2 separate regions of the Homo sapiens genome follow, and region 2 is linked to region 1. A link means that fine-mapping ties the variant in region 1 to the expression of a gene that starts in the linked region. Tissue or cell type: testis. Region 1 holds a variant in brackets; the other region holds the start of a gene. All regions are shown on one strand. Distances are between the middles of the regions.

Region 1 (5,215 bases):
AGACCAGGGCTTTTCCTCTGAGCCAGCCAGTTGTTAAACATTTACCAGCACAGCACAGCCCCTGCCCCACGGCATGCCGAATGTGGCCTTGATCGAGACAGACAGAAACCAGTGTGGGGCCTGGAGTAGCTGCCAGCTGCGGTGGACAGAACCAGGCTGCCTTGACTGAGTCCTGGGTTCTAGTCCAGGCCGGAGCTGTGATGTAGAACATTACCTCGAAGTACGGGGAAAACCTATCCATTAGGCTAGTGGCTCATGAAAATGTTTAATTTCTTTTAAATTCAGAAGAAAAAAATGAGAATAATAATGACTATATAAGTGTGAATCTGCCCTGAATTATATCTGTGTTTTTACCAATACAGTCCTAAAATATAATCTTCACTGTTTTATTTTTGGAGGGAGGGGTGCATGGGCCTTTTTTGGTCAGGGGATAGGGCTGCCAGGAGGGAATCCAGACTGTCACTGTGCTGACAAGTTTGCACAGTTAGTGTTACTGCTAGAAACTTAGGAATTGCCTCAATTCTCATGAATAGAGAATGATGTTCCCCCTCCCAGCTGGAATATCATGCAGCCATAAAAATAAGCTGTAAAGGATCAATTGCACTGTGGAGAGCTCACGAGACAGTGTGTGTAGTATTTCAGACTTGGTGCTAAAGGATCAATTGCACTGTGGAGAGCTCACGAGACAGTGTGTGTAGTATTTCAGACTTGGTGCTAAGCAACTCGTAATTACCTCTGTGGGGAACTGGCTGGGATGAAGGCAGGAAGGGAGGAGGGAGGAGAAAGGAAAACAGGTGATGCGTTATGCTAGTGGGATGCAGCATAGGCTTCATTGTCCTTTTTCAACCCTATGCAACACTTCATTCCTTTTACATATTTATTCATTCCTTTTTCTCTTCATACCCACTTTCATTTCCCACCTCTATAAAGTAACCATTCTGATGTGTATTTTTTTTTTCCAAAATGAGTATTGTTTGGCATGCTGGTGTTTTTAATATATGTTTAATATGAGACTGAACAAATATATCCTTCTGGTTCTTATATTTTCATGAAGGGCTGTGTTTTTAAGATCTCTCCACGTTATTGTGTGGATCCACACTTATTACCTCTTCGTCCTTCCAGTGACGGGCACTCGGTGTCCAGGTGTTCTAGAGGGAGCTTTCAATGTCCCCAGGCACTGATAGTTGTTTAGGTTGTTGCTGGAAACATGGAAAGATCAAACAAATGCTAAACGTGCCCCAGCCCTGAACCGAATCCCTTAAACACTCATATAAACTCCATAAACCCACCTCCTCGTTATGAACAGACTCATCTCCCTTCTTGCTGTCTGTCATGAGAACACTACAGCCTTCCCTATGTACGTTTCCCTAATAAATGCTTTGGATGGATACGGATCACCCCGGCGCTTAGTGTTTATTTCTTTGGAATTCCAACTGGCCCTACCTCTTGACGGTTTGGGGCAGTCTTGAGGGAACTCCCCAGCAGACATTGGGTGGGCTGGACAGACCACTCAGATTTGCTACCAGCTCCCTTCCATCACAGACAATGCTACACAGGTCTAGAGGGGTCTAGATCTGGAAGAATGTTTCTTCAAGATAAACAACCAGTAGCAAGATTGCTGGCTCAGCAGAAGCACTGTGTTTTTCTCCAGGCAGCTGAAGCAGTCTAGACTCTCCCTGGCTCCCATATCGTCCCTGCCCATTGGTACCATCTAGCTTTCTAGTTCATCAGTTTAATAAGGATACAATGAGGTCTCATTGTCATTTCAGTCTGCAGCTCTCTGATGACTAATGATTTTAAATGTGTCTTCATGAACTAATGTGTTAGTTTTAGGTATTTCCTCCTCTGAAAATAATGATGCCACCTTTGTCACGTATTAAATCCCCCAGGTGTCCATGGGTCTGCCTCTGAGCACTCTGTGCTGTTCCACTGATCTTCTTTCCTATCCCTGCACAGACACCACGTTGCATTTACCAAACTGGCCTTGTAATATCTTTATGTCTAGAGGTCAAGTCTTCCTTCTATGCCCCTCTTTCTGTTTTTTCTTTCTGAGACAGGGTCTAGCTCTGTCGCCCAGGCTAGAGTGCACAGGCATGATCTCGACTCACTGCAACCTCCACCTCCTGTATGCCCTCTTTCATTAAGATTGACTTAGCTATTTGAGGTCTATATGCCTCCATATCAATTTTAAAAGTTTCTGGAGAAGCAAAAAAAAATAAATTAGAATATTTATTTTTTTCCCTTATTTTATTTTATTGTAGAGACAGGGTCTTGCTATGTTGCACAGGCTGTTCTGGAACTCCTGGGCTCAAGCAATCCTCCTGCTTCAGCCTCCCAAAGTGCTGAAATTAGAGATGTGAGCCACCGTGCCCGCCCCAAAATCTTTACTGTAATTTCATTGAATTCATTAACTGATGAAGGATTTATATCTTTTAGTGTTGCCTATCTGACAGCATGGAGCAAATAAGTCTTCTTTTTTCCTGTGTATTTGTTATGTTGTAATGAAAAAATACAAGGAATGAAGAGATTTGGGCAGAAGAGAGAACCAGGCAGGAGCCATGGCAGAAGGGACCCTCTCTGTACCCAGGACCTGATGAGATGATGGCCAAGGCAAAGCTCTGGCTTTGTCACATTCATTCTGGGCCAGGCAGGCCAGGCAGTGGGCAGTCCTTGCAGGCACTGTCTCATTTATTCATTTCCTTCATTAACCCTGTGGGGCAGCTACTGCTGTTTCTGCTTTACAGGCTCAGTAGTTGAAGAATTTGCCCAAGACAAGTTGCAAAGACAGAATTTGAAACTGGTGAACGGAGATCAGGGTCTGTGCTCCCACCTGTGATGATGGCCCACCTCCTAGGTTGCTATTGCTGCTGTGCAATGACGGAGGAACTCCATCCATCTGCTCTGGGCTTTGGGGTGTATTTTCACCATAGCCCCCTTGGCCTTATGGGTGCTCAACATGGCACTTGGAGCTGCTTTTGCAGGAACCGCAGGTGATGAGGAACTCCAGCCCCTCAGCCCCTGCCTAGCCCCAGGATGGAGAGCAAGCCAGAAAAGCAGTGCACCCCCAATGCTAGCCACACCTTCTTATCTGCCCTCTCCTTCTGAGCCAGGAGGCCCAGCCATCCAGGACTTG[C/T]GGTCTTGTTGGTCCCACAACAAGCACTAAGCATCCCACTAAGCAGTTTGGGAAACTCTGCAACCCAGGATTTTCCTTGAGACTGGGGGCTGGGACCAGATGATAATTCTTATTCTTCTTCTTTTTTCTGCTTCCTCCTCCTCCTTCTCCCTCCTTCTCCCTCCTTCTTCCTCCTCCTCCTCCTTCTCCCTCCTTCTTCCTCCTCCTCCTTCTCCCTCCTTCTTCCTCCTCCTCCTCCTTCTCCCTCCTCTTCCTTCTCCTCCTTCCTTCTCTTCCTTCTTCTCCTCCTTTTTTTTTTTAAAAACATGGTCTTGATTTGTCATCCAGGCTGGAGTGCAGTTACGTCATCATAGCTCACTGCAGTCTTGAACTGCTGGGCTCGAGTGGTCTTCCTGCTTCTTCTTCCAAGTAGCTACCATGCCTAGATATATTTTTTTTTTTTAAGAGACAGAGTCTTGCTCTGTTGCCCAGGCTGGAGTACAGTGGCACAATCTCAGCTCACTGCAACCTCCACCTCCCAGGTTCAAGCAATTCTCCTGACTCAGCCTCCTGAGTAGCTGGGACTGCAGGCGCACGCCACCATGTCCAGCTAATTTTTTTTGTATTTTAGTAGAGACGGGGTTTCACCATGTTGCCCAGGCTGGTCTCGAACCCCTGGGCTCAAGCAATCCTCTTGCCTTGGCCTCCCAAAGTGCTATGACTACAGGTGTGAGCCACCAAGCCCAGTCAAGGACCAGGTGATAATCCTTAAACTCAGGGACCACTCTGGGATGAGGGCAACCCGGGGAGGCCTGGCCCTAGCTTCAACCCAGCCCATGGAGTGACCTTAGTTGGGCAGGTGGCTGGGCCTGTCTGGACCTCCATTTCCTCATGCCATTACCCTTGGCTGGTCTTTCTTTAAATCAAGGCAGGGTGGGGGAGCTGACTAACTCCTGCGGAGTCAGTGCTGGGCACTTTATTTCTGTCACTTCATTTAATGCTGTCAGGATGAGGTGAGGACTTTATAATCCCCATTTTATGGATGGGGAAACTGAGGCTCAGAGAGGTGAAGTAAAATGCCCAGGATCACACAGCTCCTAAGTAGCCGAGCCAGGATTTAAGCCCAGACCTATCAGATGGTGGAACAGCTGTTTCTCAGGTTACCATCCCTGAGGCTTTGAGATAAGGAAGTTGAGACCTTCAGTGTGAGAAACAGATGTCTGTGAAGATAAGCCCCAAAACACACCAAGTTTGTCCACCAGAACTGCTCCTGTGGCTCAAATGATGCAATGTCCACGCCCCAGAATTTCCCTTCCAGGAACACAGCGCCTTGCATAAAGTGAGGGCCCACCTTCCTGTCTTTCAACTGCTTGTGGGCTGGGAGGGGAAGCGAAGCGCATCCATTTGCAGTCAACGTCAGCACCCAGCATCCGGACGGGGAGGTGGGCTGCAGCCCGCAGCTTCCAGGGCTGTTGGGGGAGGCCTAACAGTGACAGTAACTTCTCACCTGCAGACAGGGCTTGACAGTCCACAGAGCTCCCTGGAGAGGGTCGGGGGCCGGGTAGGGAGAATGGTTGGTAAGTTGTGAGTAGAGTGAGGGATGGACTTGTGCGGTGAGGCTCCAGGGAGGGGAATGATGTCAACACTCACTGCTCCCCCCGAGGAGGGGGGTCGCTGGAGCCGGCGTGGGGCTGCCATCTCTCTGCATCTGTCTCTCCGCCACCGTTCTCCCTCTTTGTGTCAGCCTGTCTGTTAAGTCTCTCTCTCCTTCTCTCCATCTCTGTATCTCTACCCCATCTCTGCTATCTCTGCCTCTTTTTGTTTCCTACTGAGAAACCTGCATGCGATTGTGACATGGAGCCCCAGCTGCTGGAAGTACCCTGCCCAACCTAGGTCTGGCCTGAGACACCCCCCTTGGCTCAGGGATCTGCCAGGCTGGTGCCAAACTCATACATCCACTCATTCAGCCAACAAATATTTATTCAAGGTTTGCCACGAGCCAGACCCTGTGCTTGGCCTGGGCTGGAACAGTAAGCGAGGCCACCCAGGTCCTTGTTCTCTAGGAGCTCAGGTCCTAGTGGCAATGCCCAGCCTCTGCTCAGG
Region 2 (5,000 bases), 24 kb after region 1:
GGAGGGGAGATAACATTGTCAGCTTGAGGACGGGTGCCATTCTCTGCCATCCCGGCCCTGCTGTCATGAATGGGTCCAGGTGCAGGCCTCCCTCCCGGATTGCCATGAATTTCAGCGCAGGCATGTAAGTGAAGCTCTTGGCAAGCACCCTACACAGACAGGATCATTAAATATCTTTTCTGTGTTTATTCTTTGAAGACACTGCAAGCATTTCATGTAGACAAGGAGACCCTGTGCTAGGCCTGTGGGTGGGATAGCACTCCCCTCCTCTCCAGACCCTCTATGCTCCAGAGCCTGGCCTCCATGGACTGCCTCATTTGGGGGTCAGCAAGTGGAAAGTGGACTGGAGGTCAGAGGGCAGGAGGAGGGCAGAGTGGGCATTTGCCCCCACCCCGCATGGCTCCTTCAGCCCCTGCTGGCTCACCGTGAGCAAACCACCGCCATTTCCCTCCTGTAGCCACAGTCTGGCTGTAGAAGCCCAGGGGGCCACTCCCTCCTGGCCCCTTTAGACCTCACGGTGCTGAAGGCTGCCCCAGGTGCCAGCCTGCCCAGTGACCACCCTCCTTGCTCCCCGTGCCCTGCCCGCACCTTTGTCACGTGTCCCTTCATGCCAGGCCCTCCATTGCATCCACCCCTTGCTCAGCCCTAACAGCTGGGTCTCACATGCGAGCCCCCACCACACTGTGTCACTCCTGCAGACTGTGAGCCTTTTGAGGGCAGGGGCCAAGTGGTACCAGCAGGAGCAGAGGGCACCATCGATGCTTCCTGAATGAATGAATGAATGAATGAATGCGCAAATGGAGAATGGAGACTAACACATCACTGTCCACACAGGAAGTGTGCAGACCTTCCTGTGTGTAGACCTCTCAGAGCTCCTTGCTCAATCAAATGGCTGCTGCTCTGCCCCAACCAGAGCACCCACATCACCATGGGGGAAACAGCATCACCTGGAGGAGGCTTGAAGGCCCAACCAGCGATGACAGCTGGGACCTGAGGACGCCCATGAGCCCTGGTCACAGCTGCCATCGGTGGCTCCGTTCATTCATCTATCAAGGGCTGCCTGGTGGCCTGCTCTGTACCAGGGCCTCCCGGGGCCACTAGGAGGACAGTGCTGTCATCTCCCACCCTTTTTTGAGCCAGGGACTGATTCACTCCACTGAATCTTCCAATGTTTGAAAAGAAGAGGGTTATTTGAAGACCAAATAAGTTGATCTATGTGGCCAAAGTCACGCGACCACACGCTGGACACACAGGGAGATGGACATGCAGGCCCCTCACCGAGTCAGGAGCAAAAAGAGAGTGGCCTGCAAGGCCCTGAGACAGGAGCACTGAGGAGGGAGCACTAACGGGGGAGCACCTCCCTCTGTCCGAGAGGGTTGCTAAGACGCCACAGAGGCCAAGAAGGGTAAATGGAGCTGGCTAAGTGGGCAAGGGGTAGGGGGACAGCTTTCCTGGGAGAGAGGCCAGCAAAGGCAAGGCCCGGGCACTTCCATGGCCTCTGGAGACGCACCATGTGTTTGTGTGTGAGACGGGAGAGTGACGGGGAGGAGTGTGGATCCTGGCTCAGGCCACTGAGGACCAAGAGGTTGTGGCTGAGACTGGGAGAGGGAGCCGGTGTGGGGTGACATGTGCGGGAGGAGAGGTCCAGAAGAACGAGGTGACAGACCTTCCTGGCCTCAGCTTCCAGAGTGTCTGAATCCCGTCCCCAGGATCTCACAAGCCAGCTGGAGAATTGCCTGCCCGGGGCCAACCCCTGTCTCAGAGCCAGGCCTGTCAGGGAGACACAGCCCAGGTTGGGGAGTCAGGGAGCACCCTCCGACCTCCCCTATCTCCAGGGCACTGTGGAGCAACAAAGGGAACCTGAGACCAGTCCTGAGCAAGGTTTAGTGGAAGGACAGGACTGACCCAAAGGGACAGGGCTAGAGAAGGTGCTGAGGCGGCCACGGGGGGTATCGGAGGACACATCCCAGACACCCCAACTCCTCACCTTCTCCAGTCCCTGCGTCTGTCCCTGGATCCCTCCCTCGGCAGGGCAGGGTCGGCCCAGCGTGGCAGGAGGGGATGAGGTGCCAGCCACTCACCTGAGGTCGGGAGCAGGAGGAGCAGGAGCAGGGCCCCCAGGCCCCTGGGCGTCGCCATCCTTGGCCAGCCTTGCCCACGCCAGGAGCTCTGTGGCTGTCTGGCCCTCTGGCCCCAGGCTCTGCTGAGCTGGCCTGCCCCCACCCTGCAGCCCCACCACTCTGGCTTCCTGTGTCCTCTTTCTCACCCTTCCTGCTCGATGGCGCCATTGGTTGGGTTGTGAAAGGTGAGTGTGGGGAACTGGGCAGTGCTCCCAGTCTCACCGCACCCTGGGTCCACCTGCAGAGGGAGCTGCTGAGCCCACCCAGGTATGTGCCCCCGGGGCCCCACTGGGGTGGGATCTACGGGGCTAGGGGCTGGGTGGCCACAGGGGCCTGGCTCAGAGCGGATCCCTGGGAACTGTGGTGAGCACAGGCTTTGGAGTCAGGCGCACCTACTCAGACCCCTCCTCTCACAAGCTGGGAGCCTCTCTGAGCCTCAGTTTCCTCCTCTGTAAAGTGAAGATGGCAATGGGGCTGCCTCCTAAGGCTGTGTCAGGGTTTGATGAGACCTGCAACAAGCTGGGCACAGAGCCTGGCTCTGGGCATGAGGACGAAGACCCAGATGGTGCCTATGGCTTGAACCAGGCTGGAGGGTGTGGGAGGAGAGCAGGAGCTGGCCCTGCAGCCTGAGCTTCCCCCACCAGCCTGGATAACAGGACGGACCCAGAGGCAGGGTAGCGGGAAGACAGCAGTGCGGCCCCGGGGGCTGGTCAGGCCTGAGCTAACATCCATCCTGGCCACTTCCTGGCCGGGTGACCTTGCATGCACTGTCTGTCACCCTGAGCCTCCCGAGGTGTGTGATGAAATCATGGATGACGCAGGCGGAGCCGCCTGTGGCCATTACATCATTTCTGATCATCAGAGCTGTGAAATTGTTGTCTTTACACCCCAAATGGTCACTGATCAGGTGGGAGGTGGGGGTGGCAAACACTCCTGGGCTTCAGCCTAAAGGAATTAGGGCGCCAGCCACTCGGGCCAACTCTGGAGGCCCCACGGATGCACTGTGCATGAGGCCATGGCCACTTGGCAATTGGAAGGTGAAGGGCATCCCACCAAGGTGTGTGGTTGCTGGCATCCCCCTCTGGCCCACGGGGCTGGCACTAGCCCTACTCAGCCTTGGGATTGAACTGGGGAGCCGCTCAGCCCCTGCTGGCCTCCATTTCCTCCTCCTCCCACTCAGTGTCTCCTGCTGAGCCCTCTGGGTCTGGGAAGGGGTAGGGAGGGGATGTCAGGGTCACTCATGGTGTGGGAGCAGGTGGGAATTCAGCATGGAGCAGCAGGTCAGAGCCCAGGGCTTCCTGAGCCCCAGAAACTTCCTCTGCAGGGAGGGCTGCGAAGGCAGATGAATGGCTGGGCCTGCCACTGCTCCACACCTGGCCAGCCTTCTCCTGGAAGATCTGCAGACCTCCCTCCCAGCTGCAGGTGAGGGTGAGGTGGGGCAGTGGACTTGGATGTGCTGGGCCCATCGCTGAAGCCCCATCCTGGCACCTGGGCCCTCAGAGAGGCTCGCAGGTACCAGTGTGTGAAGAAGCGCCTGGGGGTGAGCAGACTGAGATTCCGAGCAGCCAGCCCACCTGGGAAGTGGGCAGAGGGCAGGTGCAGGGGAAGGTCAGGCAGGGCTGGAAGGAGGGCCACCTTTTCCTAAGGCCCCTTCCCTGAAACGCCCCCTGGGGACCAGGGACTAGCCTGGAGCCACTCACAGAACCCTGAGACCCCCCCCAACCCCAGGGCCAACAAAACAGTAGTGTCCCTTCCTGCCGCCTCCTGCCCCAGCTTCTCCCAATGGCTCCAGTGGGCAGGGCCTCAAGTCCTCCAGCGAGACCCAGCCAGCATTCAGCCCTCAGCTGCTCCAATCCATTTCCCAAGCTAAAGGGATGTTTCCAGATGCACGCCTGGCCACATGCTGGCAGAAAGGGCGATCCCACTGTCCAAAGCCCCACAGCCTGGGAAAGTGCATGATAATAACCATCGGGGTAAAAGGATCAGCATGGAACTGTTGGTGCCCTGTGCAGGGCCTACCTGAGAAGGTGAGACCCAACCCAAGACCCCTCCCCACTACCTGAGCCAGCCTCAGATGCAGAAACAAAATGTTTGAGAAGCAGGAGAATTGCGGAGGAACGGGGCTGGGTCATTTCCCCCCCATTCTGGAAGATGGGGGGAGTTGCCTCAACCCCCATCCCAGGACCTAGCCCAGCCATGGGGCTCTGAGAGACCCCCCTCACGGAGACCTAGAAGCCTGTAAGGAGGGAAGCTGGCTTTGATCCCCCGGGGCTGCCCAATCCGGACACTGGGGTAGGGGAGGCTTGGGAAGGTTTGGCCTCTGTCCTTTGGAGCTGGGGGCATAAGAGGAGCCCCCCACCTGCAGAAAGGTGGGGACAGAGGTCAGTGGAGGGAGTGGAGGGGGTGGAGGGAGGGCTGGGAGAGCAGCAGGGCACAGGGGTTCTTGGTCCCTGCAGGTCCCAAGATCCCACATTCACGCCCCTCAGAGGGCACTGCCAGTCTAGACCCAGCTGCCTCACACCCACCTTGTCCAATCCAAGACTCTGAGCCTCTTCCCCTGCTGGGCATCCCCCTAGAGTGGCCAGGGGAGGAGGGAGGAGCCTGCAGAAGGGAGAGAGTGGACTGTGGGCCTTGGGGAGGACTTTGGCTGCACTGGGACCTCTTACCTGAACACAGTAGCAATGATCCGTTGTGACTGCCCTCATCACAGGGAAGATGGGAACCTGCGTGATCTGCCTCACCTGGGCCTTAGGAGCGGGAGGAGAGATTGATTTGGTGGAACAAGGTTAAAGGCAGGGATGGGAGAGAAGTCCAGTGATTTAATTCTTGCAGCCCACCTGCTGCAGAGTGATCAGTAAACTGGTTGCATAAATCCCAGGA

Evidence for each region. PIP is the estimated chance that this variant, and not a neighbour inherited with it, causes the effect.
Region 2: ADGRG3 starts here. The variant in region 1 is fine-mapped to the expression of ADGRG3 in testis (GTEx, PIP above 0.99).

Annotation. Positions count from the first base shown.
Region 1 is chr16:57,689,238-57,694,452 of GRCh38, reverse strand. ADGRG3 (adhesion G protein-coupled receptor G3) reads right to left here. Exons shown (of 12, transcript NM_170776.5): 12 at 5,075-5,215. Among named protein-coding and RNA genes, the nearest start is that of DRC7, 3.0 kb to the left of the region's middle. RefSeq lists enhancers at 4,212-4,261, 4,312-4,361, 4,502-4,611. The variant C/T (reference allele first, on the strand shown) is at 3,134.
Region 2 is chr16:57,665,487-57,670,486 of GRCh38, reverse strand. It overlaps ADGRG3 (adhesion G protein-coupled receptor G3), which reads right to left and starts at 2,181. Exons shown (of 12, transcript NM_170776.5): 1 at 2,082-2,181. The coding sequence starts at 2,139. It overlaps ADGRG1 (adhesion G protein-coupled receptor G1), which reads right to left. Exons shown (of 14, transcript NM_201525.4): 14 at 4,920-5,000.